Regions from separate parts of the Homo sapiens genome. Here region 2 is linked to region 1. Evidence: fine-mapped expression QTL. A gene starts in region 1. The other region holds a variant in brackets. All regions are shown on one strand. Distances are between the middles of the regions. Region 1 holds the start of SNTG2-AS1 (SNTG2 antisense RNA 1). Region 2 overlaps SNTG2 (syntrophin gamma 2).

Region 1 (5,380 bases):
CACGAGCACCTGCCTGTGTCCGCCCCATGCCCAGCAGCGCAGGAGCTAGGGGTGCGCAGCAGAGCCTGAGAGCAGCTCCTCTTTGGGGTCCCTCGTGTGCCTGCTGTCACATGCTACATGAGCTAACAGGAAAGCCAGAAAATCACACTGCTTAGTAAGTCTATCCTGAATATACCCATTTAGTAAATAGGAGGCCTGCGATGCAAACACACCCTCTGTCACCGAGAACTGCAATGCCAGCCCCTCTGCCAACTCACTCAGAGCCTCATGGGGTATCTTGAGAAGCAGATCTAAATTAAAACTGAAGCTTAAATGCCTTGTCTACAGTCATCATCCATAAAGATATCCAGAGACAAGAAGCTGTTGCTCCACATACACCATTCAGAAAACAAGGCAATTTTAACATCCCATGTTGGAAAAAAACAAAAACAAAAACAAGGCACACTTTTCTTAATTGGACCTCATTCAAATATTTACTGGGGAACATGTCTCCATGTCTCCTGGTAAAGTCAGGTAACTGCCTGCTTTGTAATGCATGGATTTTGCTTATGATGTCATAGACGTCAATAGAAATTCTACAGTTGAAATTAAAGATGAGTCAGCAAGGATGAGAAACATAACCAAAGCATAGAAGGAATGGGGAACCTTCTTAGGAGCTCAGATGCTTCATTCATCTCATGCAGCAATTCACATCTGTAAACAGATGATTAGGTGGTGCCCTTACCCCACATGCACCTTTAAAATGACCTAACGTGCTTTCCCCCTTCAGTGGGCAAGCTCATCACATAAATGGGCATGTTCCCGGCTCATGCCAATAATTCTTCCAGCGCCCCAGACTGAAGAAGTGTTGTCATTTAAAAGCAGCAAATGTGCTGTAAACATCAACCAATAGTAGTCTTTGAAGCTACAAGCAAGACACACTTCGCACATTGTACTGAGGTTGTCTGCCAGTGGGATTTTACCCCTCAAATCCAGGTATGGTCAGAGACAGAGCTCCATGAACTCACTTAACTTAGAAAAAAACATCGGGAACAGGCACTTGAAAGGGGAAACAAAACAGGTCTGTTACCGAACAGGAGACCTTCAAACGTGGCCAAATTCCATGATTCAAACAAGCAGTCATGATAAAGAATGTGTATAGTTTTGACTTCAGATAGAAAAAATATAACTAGAAATATAAGATTTAGAAAAGACTTTCATCTTTTTCTAGTTAAAAGCACCAAGTTCTCTTAACTGAAATGATTAAATAATTACACAAGTTGAATAATATTGTGCAGTTATGGTAAGAAAATAATTCTGCCATTAAGTAAGGATGACATTGTATACTAAGAACATTCATGTTTTCAAGACAAACCTGCCAACACCAATACTTAACAGATTCGTTTTAAATACATAAGAATCTGAGCTAACATGACCATGCACTGGTGTCTAAGGTAGGCTTAGCACATACCTAATTACTTATGACTGCAAAGTTAGGAGTCTTGCTCTTAAAATGCTCCATCTTATTGTAATACTTGGCCTCCAACGCTAAAAAAAAAGTTTCTTTCAATACAATTCAGACAGGCTGTTTCAAATAATCAAGGTCCTTATTAGAAAGAAAGCGCCAATCACATCTTGTAGCAAACAGGTGAGCAGAGGCCACTCTTGACTGGAAAACATCAAATTTAGCACCTTAATTAATACTGAGCGCAAAGGAGAGCATTTACTAGAATACGCGCAGTTGCTTTATTTGTTGACGTTATTGCCAATAACTCATCAAGTGGGTCAATCATGAAGTATGATGAATCCACTTCAACGCTTCCGCTATAATTACAATGATTAAAAGCAAGAATTGCTTTGCTCGAATGTCTGGAGAAAAATGCACAATCCCTAACCGTGGGAGGGCATCATTATAAAGCTGAAGGCAGTGACCAGACGGAAAGCCTGTGATTCCACAGCGCCTGCAGTTTTTACTGCGGTTTATTTCCAGGTAATCCCCGCATATTTTCTCGGGTTTGATTACCATGGGCAACAGTGGGATAGCTATTCATATTACAAAGTACTTCAAGAAACGAACACCCACATTTTACATGAAATTTAATTTTCATATTTTGTAGTAAAAGCCCAGAAAGGTGCTACTTGAATGAAGATGCACCTGTCTCTACATAGAAATCTTTTTAACATCACAGTAGCGACGACCACAGTCCTAGTTTAGAATCATTATTATGACGATAGGAATTTGTAGCAGCCCTCAACCCGTGGCCTTCTGAACCGTCTCTCCACTGTCCTATAAGGGAGGGCTAACTGTATTCCTGGTCGCTCCTGGGACTGGGAGCTCCTGGGGAAGGAATCCTAAAGGAGTGGTTGTCAATGCATTTTCATTAACAGCCGCGCTTCTCGGCAGCCTCCTAGGGCTGGGGTGGCCACGTGCTCCCTTAAACTGTTTTCACAACTCGAGGCTGTGCTGTGGGTGGCAACTTGAAGGTTTCCAAGAACTTTTCGTTTTTCTTTGGGCCAACATTTCTGTTTTCTGTCAATCAATAGTTTAGTTATTTAAAAATAAGAAGGTGAAGAGGGAGTTATTTAGGGTGGGAACCAGAATAGACTTCAAAAAAGAAATCCGTATTACCCAGTTGGCGTCCCAGCGGTTCCCCGAATGGCCTAGAGCCCCCAGCACCTGCCGAGGCCGCGCCATGCACCTGGCTGGGCTCAAACTGGCCAACTCAGACCTGGCCTGGGCGCCCGAAGGCTGCAGGGGGGACGCTCCGGTCCGAGCCACCGCCTGGGCCCGAAAGAGCCGCTCCTGGGAAGCAATGCCGGGCCAATCTCAAATCCCAAATTCTGGAAAGCACTACTTCCCACGCAGTAAAGGGAAGCCCGGGCGCCTCAAAACCAAACCTTGGAAGACGCTGGAGGAGCAAAGCCTGCAAGTTTCCAGTAAGACACTGGGCTGGAGGGAGCAGAGCGGCCAGGGGGCGGGTGCCCACTGCGTCCCGGGGCTCCGGCGCCCACCCTCCGGCCAGCCGTCCCCGGAGACAGGGAAGGGGTCGCGGGGAGCGAGGGGGCGTGGAGGGAGGAGGGGCGGGGGGAGAAGGGCGCGAAGGAGAGGGAAGGGGGGCCGGAGGTGAAGGGGCGCTGAGGGGCCGCACTCACCCGCGCAGGTACCAGCAGGCAGCCCTGGCGTCCGCGGGAGGCGGCCGGGGGCGGGGGTCCCTCGGTGCCCATCGCCGCCCCTGCGGCTGGGTCCGCGCTCCGGGCCGGCCGAGCTCAACGCCAGGACCCCGTCCGAGCCTCCCAGGGCCCCGCCAGGCGCCGCGTCCGCGCCCGCGCCCCTCTGCCGGCTCCGGCTCGGGCTCCACCGGGGCGCAGGGCTGGGGAACCGGAGCTCCGCCCGCCGACCCGGAGCACCGCCCACGCAGACCCGCCCCGGGCGAGGGAGGGGCCGGGCGCGCACCCGCGGGGAGGGCGGCGAGCGGGGATCAGCCGAAGTCGGGAGAGGGGCGCTTCCACGGGGCGGGAAACTGGCGCGCGACTCTGGGGGAAGTGCAGGATGGGGGGACAGGGGCGCTCCCGCGGGGGTGGATGGGGGACCATAGCGGGGCTGGCGGGGCAGGGGCCGGCGCACGAGGCTGGAGGAGGGGAGCGCGCGCTTCTACCCGGGCTGGGTCGCCGAGGTCCGCGGCGCATCGTGGCGGCGGTGGGCGGAGGGGGGCGGGGGGCACCTCTTCTCCCTTGTGGCGCAGGTGGGCGCGCTCTGGACCGGCTTGACGACCCCTCCCCGCCGCCCCACCTCCCTGGCCAAAGGTTCTCAGCTTCTAATCAGGGACATTTCTAGTCCACAGCCTCGAAGCCATGGGTTCTCCCCGGCCCTCTGAAGCCGCCACACCTGTGCCAGCCGGCCGCGTCCTCAGACCTTTCCCCGCGGAGTCTTCCCAGCACTTGGAGACGCAGCGCAGGGCCCCGAGGACGGCCTGGCCCGGAGAAAAGATACCGAAGCTCCAACTTTCCCCAACCCCGCTCCCCTCCTCCTTCCACCCTCCCTTCCCGCCCCCAAAGCTCGGGGGTCCTATCCCTCCTCCGGTCCGCGGAGTCTCCCGAACCCTGCGGGGACCCGGCGCTCGGCGGTGCCCTCCTGGGGCGCACGGGGCTGGGGCGGGAGCGAGGAGACCAGGTGGGGAGGGGACCCCAGATCTCAGACGCCAGGGGAGACGGCGTTTCCCGCTGTTCATTCAGGTTTGTGCCAAAAGGAGCCTCACAGATGCAGTATTGGGTTTGGTAGACTCAAATCGTCTTGTTTTAATGTAAATGAAAGTAAGTTTAGGATAAATTCCAGTGCGGCGGGGGCAGGCAAGGCTACCCACATTTTTTAAAAAGAAGCCAGCCCGTATTTTTCTCCCTTTCCAAATCCTCCGCCCCCCAGTCCTTCGACCCAGGCACGAGCGCCCATCGCGGAGGCCACGATGCCCGTTTTATTCCCTCTCCACGGCAAGGAAAAGCAGCGAAATCTGAGGTCTTCAGAGGTTAACCCTATCTAGGAGCAGAATGTGACGCATTGTAAACAAATAAATATTGAAAACTCGATGTTAAACACTTTACTTTTTCTGACTCCGACTTGCTTGACCCCTGAGCAGACCTGGGTTTCGAACACAGACGCCCTTCCCCATTTCTCTATTCTCTGTATTCCTGTTTCACCTTCACGGCAGTCTGCCAGCACTTCTTAGCACTCAGTTTAACCAGAGGACAAGCTCTTGAATAGCAAAAACCAGGTCTTTTTATACGTGGCACAGTGGCTGTTACAAAATATGCTTCTTGGGTGAATTGGTAAAAAATATTGTATTACTTTTTATTTGTAGCAAAACCTAGAATAAGAAAAAGTACAAGAGATTATTGTTTGCCTTTAAATTGCATTTTTAAAAGAGCGTGCATATAATCTCTGAGAAATTAAATGTCTACAAATAGCACAAAGATATTGTCTCATTACCTTGCAAAGGGACATTCTATTCCAGGGCCTGAAGAAGGAAAAACAGCGTGTTGCATGCATAAATGTTGACTTTGAGAGACAAGTTTTTGTTAAAATTTTATCGTTAAATGAATAGACACATATATTTTTGTTTTTCAGACCAAAGGTAATTGTTAATTCATTTGTAAAATAATGTAGTTTTGGCTAACAATCTCTGGAATCCTTTCTATAATAAAATTTTGTGATTCCAGGACGTCGTAGGCGCTCTGGGGCTGCTTTTGAAAGGCTAATTAATTCAAGTTTTAACTGCCTATCTGCTTTTATGCATCTGTGTCAGGACTGCACGTAAGGGTTATTTTGCTTATTTTAAATACTAGGGTTCTACTGCAATAACAATAACAATAAAAAGTAAAACCCTGACTATCCTGAAACTCTGCGAGG
Region 2 (5,380 bases), 220 kb before region 1:
GGCTAATATAAAAATTATCTCATATTTAACAACAGATGCAATCACTGCTAATCTTTTATGACAAATTAATATAAAAGAAATTATTTAAATGTTGTTTTCATTCAGCAGTGTGCCAATAACCTTTTATCACCTCAAGAAGTGCATGTCAACTTTAAGGGCTATGTGGGTATGCTTAGTTTCCTTTTCAAAAAAAATAAATTTAAAGTGCTGGTCTACTGGAAATAATTATCTCTTTTTTGTCAGAAAATATATTATTTTTTTCTTTTGAAGCACGTTTGCTGGGTATTATAGAATTTTAAACAGGAATTAATTTCTTTTTCATACTTCAAAGGTGTCATTTCATTTCCTCTAGCTTCTCTTGTTTTTGTTGAGAAAGAAGTTGTCAATTTTACTATCATTTTCTTTTTAACTTCTGGTTCCTTTTAAAGTTTTTTTTTTTTAATTTTTATTTTTAAGTTCCAGAGTACATCTGCAGGATGTGCAGGTTTGTTACATTGGTAAACGTGTGCCATGGTGGTTTGCTGCACCTATCAACCCATCACCTAGGTATTAAGCCCAGCATCCATTAGCTATTTTTTCTTGATGCTCTCCCTCCCACCATGGCCCCCACCCCTTGCCGGGCCCCAGTGTGTGCTGTTCCCCTCCATGTGTTCTCATAGTTCAGTTCCCACTTATAAGTGAGAATATGTGGTGTTTGCTTTTCTGTTCCTGCCTTATTTTGCTGAGGATAATGGCTTCCAGCTTCATCCATGTCCCTGCAAAGGACATAGTCTTGCTCCTTTTTATGGCTGCATAGTATTCCATGGTGTATCTCTACCACATTTCCTTTATCAAGTCTATCATTGATGGGCATTTGGGTTGATCTATGTGTTTACAATTGTGAATAGTGCTGCAATTAATATACACATGCATGTATTATTGTAATAGAATAATTTGCATTCCTTTGGGTATATACCCAGTAATAGGATTGCTAAGTCAAATGGTATTTCTGGTTCTAGACCTTTGAGGAATCACCACACCGTCTTCCACAATGGTTGAATGAATTTACATTCCCACCAACAGTGAAAAAGTGTTCCTATTTCTCTGCAACCTCGACATCATCTGACTTTTTAATGATCACCATTCTGACTGGCCTGAGATGGTATCTCATTGTGGTTTTGATTTGCATTTCTCTGGGGATCAGTGATGATGAGCCTTTCTTCATCTGCTTGTTGGCCACATGAATGTCTTCTTTTGAGAAGTATCTGTTCGTGTCCTTTGCCCACATTTAATGTTTTTTTTTTTCTTGTAAATTTGTTTTAGTTCCTTGTAGATTCTGGATATTAGACCTTTGTCAGACAGATAGATTGCAAAAATTGTCTCCCACTTTGTAACTTGCCTGTTCACTCTGATGATAGTTGTTTTTGCTGTGCAGAAGCTCTTTAATTAGATCCCATTTGTCAACTTTTGTTTAAGTTTTTATTTAAAATAAAAACAAACTTTATTTTAGGTTCAGGGGTACATGTGCAGGTTTGTTATATAGGTAAACTTGTGTTATGGGGGCTTGTTATACAGGTTATTTCTTTACCCAGGTATTAATCCTAATACTCAATAGTTATTTTTTCTGATCCTCTCCCTCCTCCCACCCTTCACCCTCAGGTAGGTCTCAATATTGAGTCTTGATAGCCTTCTAAAACGAACATATTAAAGCTATTTTTAAACTCTGCAATTCAGATTCCCTGTAATGAGTTTAAATAACCTGATGATGCTTTATTCTGGAGCTGAGCTAACCATATGAATAACTACAAAGAATTTTAAGGTTAGCACTTCTTTTTCTCTTTCTCTTGCTGATAAGGAGGATGAGGATGTCTGAAGATGACATATTCCAAGCATTAGGCTAGTCACTCTACCCATGTCCCCTCCATAATTCCACAATTACTCCTTGACATGAGGATCACATCCACCAAAGCCTGAAGAACCAGGAGAGCTGGGAGAACCAGGAGAACTGGGAGAACCAGGAGAACCAGGCAGCCTCCCTTCAACGATACTGTCGTGTTACTTTTCCACTGCACTTACCAGAGCCACAAAGACTGTCTGACCTTTCCTGAAATGGCACCGAATCATGCCCCATGCTCTGTGTCTCCTTCCAGGAAGAGTTTAGAGTCCACTCAACAAGCTACAGCCACACAATGGGAGAAAAACCCTGAGGATAACTGCACAGAAAGGGTAGGAGGACAGTTTCTCCCTGCTGAACTGTGCTGGCTTGGGGGACAGGGTGTTGCAGACAAATGGAATTGTACAATCCTCTTGTAAAATTAATTTTAAAAAGACTCTGTAGGAAAATATTAAATAATATGGAAAGAAATGGAGCAGCATTAATTCAAAGATAGCACAAATAAATATGCTTTCCATAAGCAGGAAAGGTGAGTCAGAAAGGTTTGATTCTCCCCAGTAAATCTGGCAATTACAGTCAAAATCCCAACACTGTTTTTTGTAGAACTGGATCAAGAGCTATTGAAATTCACAAGAAAAAACAAAGAGAGAGGATGGAAAAAATAGAGTGAGTTAGGAGGTGGCAAGAGGGCAAGGCCTACAGATGACACAAATTGATTATAAATACCTAGTAATTACATAGTGTGATATTGCCATTGATATTGACCAA[T/C]AGAATACAACAGAGGTCTCAGCAGCACACGCCTGCGCTCATGGTGCTGGTTACTTGTGAGCCGTGGCAGTGCAGATTACCCAGAAATAGTGTTGAGACAACTGGTTACCCATAAAAATGCACCTGGAACTCTACCTTTCACAGCTTTAATAAAAGCAGATCTCATGGGATTTAGAGATCTAATGTGAAAAGCAAACGTTAACAATATTTAGAGGAAAATATAAGGAAGTGTCTTTATGAACTTAAGATAAGAAAGATTTCTTGAACAAAATCCTAAAACCACAAAACCACAGAAGATAGCACAAACAAAATGAAAAAGCCAAGTTATAAGCTGTAGGAAGAGATTTTTAACCCATTACCACCAAAATATTATTACCAAGTGTATATTAAACATTTCAATGGATTTGTAAGAAAAAAGATCACCTTAACAGTAAATGTGCCAAAGAGATAAACAGCATTTCACAGAAGAGGAAAAACCAAAGGAAAATACAAATAGAAACAGTAAACAAAACTCATTAGTAATGATGGAAATGAAATAGAGCCCCAGAGAGAGAACCATTTTACAGCTACTGTACTTCAAATATTAAGTCAAAAATTACCTAGCACTGGAGAGGCTGTGGCTCAACTGGAATTTCCCAGAGCTGTGTGAATATAAACTGCACAGCCACTTTTGTAGAAAACTTGCTGTTATTTTGAAAATAGAACATCCTGGTATAATCTAGCACTCAGAAATTCTACCTTATGGAATAGCCAAGAGACATTTATAAGTATCTTTATGGCTGCACCTCTTTTAATGATGATAAACTAGAAAAACAAACATAAAACAAAGGCAAAGTGTCCACAGGCAACTGACAATGGATAAACTGTAGTGAAATATCATACAGCAAAAAACCTCACAGAAACAAACAGTAAGTAAACATGCAAATCTCAGAAGACTATGGAAGAATAATATTTTATAAGCCTTGCAATAAAATGAAATTTTACATATATATATATATATATATGGATAAAACTTTTTTTCAATCAAGAAAATGACAAACACAAAATTCAGGATGCCTTATATCTCTGGGCAGGCCAGAAAATGGAGTATGGAAGACTGCACAGATGGAAAGCTAGGGACAATATTCTAATTATTGCTTAGAACTGCAATTTCATGGGCATTTGTTTTATTATTTTGCTTCATAACTGACACAGAGTCTAAATGCAATTTTTAATTTCAGGAGCTCAATTAAATGGTTAGAAATGGAGTAGTCAGACATCTTAAACATAGATTGTACAAACATGAATATTTTTCTCTAGGTTCTCCCTGTGTATGAAGTATCCAGTCATTTTGATGATTTGACTGGAATGATTTATAATAAAACATTTTTTCAAACTGCTTACAGGATTCTACATTTCTCGTGCACTAATGCCTCTGTGGATGATGAATTCCCCAAGGGGCGCAGCTCACAGGTCACCCTGCGGGAGTTGGAGCCCAGGCTTCTGAGAGAGGAGGGCGTGAGCCCTGTGTCCCAGGGAGCTGCAGGTTCTCTCAGAGCCCAGGCTTCTGAGGAAGGAGAGTGTGAGCCCCATGCCCCAGGGAGCTACAGGTTCTCTCAGAGCCCAGGCTTCTGAGGGAGGAGGGCGGGAGCCCCATGTCCCAGGGAGCTGCAGGTTCTCCTTTTTGCTCAAGTCTGGTTTTCTTGGGAGGGTGGATATTTAGAATGTGATTAAAACTCACTGCATTATACAGTGTTCATACCTCCTTAGGTGTTTTCTGTTAAGAAATTCATGGGAGTCTCACAGAAGTTTCCTAAAAATAACCTGCAGTCCTTCCTACAGTCACGGTGATATGTAAGTCAGAGGCAGGACTCAAAGAATTCTTGCCTGCTCACTGAGATGCTGTGAATTATGAACTTAAAATATCCTATAATGCAATCAGGATGTGTCCCACGTGGGAGTAAATGTCAACAGAACAGCACCTTCAATCTGTGTTCTAAGTATTTCCTCTGAAACTAACACAATTATCTTCACTGGGCAGTACAGCATCTTTTTAATTCTGTCTAGAGATTATCTCTGGGCTACTGATATTTCTGTTAAAATAAAATTTAACAAAAATCTATATGCTTACTGTGGTACTGGAGTTTCCGTTCAGATGCAAACCGCTGTCAAAGAGGGGAGAGGAGGCCCCACTGCTGTGGTCGCTGGATGGCCCTGGGGACCCTGCAGCAAAACAAGAGAAGTCCCTTCCAATTGGTGCCACTGACAAAGCACACTGTGACCATGCAGTGACTTCAGTTCTACCTGTGCATGGGAAGTTACCAGCACCAAAATGCCTGGTGTCCAGTTATGGGCTGGGTCATCCCCAATGGCCTCTCACTTTCCTGCTGTGATATGGTCTCCTCACCAAGATCTGACCTCAGGTTGAAGGGAGGGACCACTGCCGGCTCCTGTGAGGGCTCCCCAGGGTGGAGGGACAGCATCAGGAAGGTGTGCCCCCAGCAGCTCAGGCCCTCCCTGTCAACATGACCCCCTGGAATGGTCAGCACAAGGCGCCTTCTGTGATTGCAGTGTTCTCTTTTGAAAGGAGATGATCATACCAGGCCACTCAAAAGGTTTTTTCCAGAGACAATATTGAAAAGCTCACACTCAAAGCACTTAGCACATTACAGGTAAAACAGGTGCTCATAAAATAATTTCCCTGGAAATACAGGCTCATGCAACCAGAGCTTACACCTGCTAAACAGAAACAAGCCAGTT

The links.
Region 2: its variant is fine-mapped to the expression of SNTG2-AS1 in whole blood (TOPMed, PIP 0.95).

The regions. Positions count from the first base shown.
Region 1 is chr2:948,821-954,200 of GRCh38, reverse strand. It overlaps SNTG2-AS1 (SNTG2 antisense RNA 1), which reads left to right and starts at 2,809. Exons shown (of 3, transcript NR_136151.1): 1 at 2,809-2,916; 2 at 3,815-4,290; 3 at 4,400-4,567. SNTG2 (syntrophin gamma 2) reads right to left here and starts at 3,352. Exons shown (of 17, transcript NM_018968.4): 1 at 3,133-3,352. The coding sequence starts at 3,204. RefSeq lists a silencer at 3,314-3,443.
Region 2 is chr2:1,172,555-1,177,934 of GRCh38, reverse strand. It overlaps SNTG2 (syntrophin gamma 2), which reads right to left. Exons shown (of 17, transcript NM_018968.4): 8 at 4,752-4,843. Among named protein-coding and RNA genes, the nearest start is that of SNTG2-AS1, 220 kb to the right of the region's middle. The variant T/C (reference allele first, on the strand shown) is at 2,642.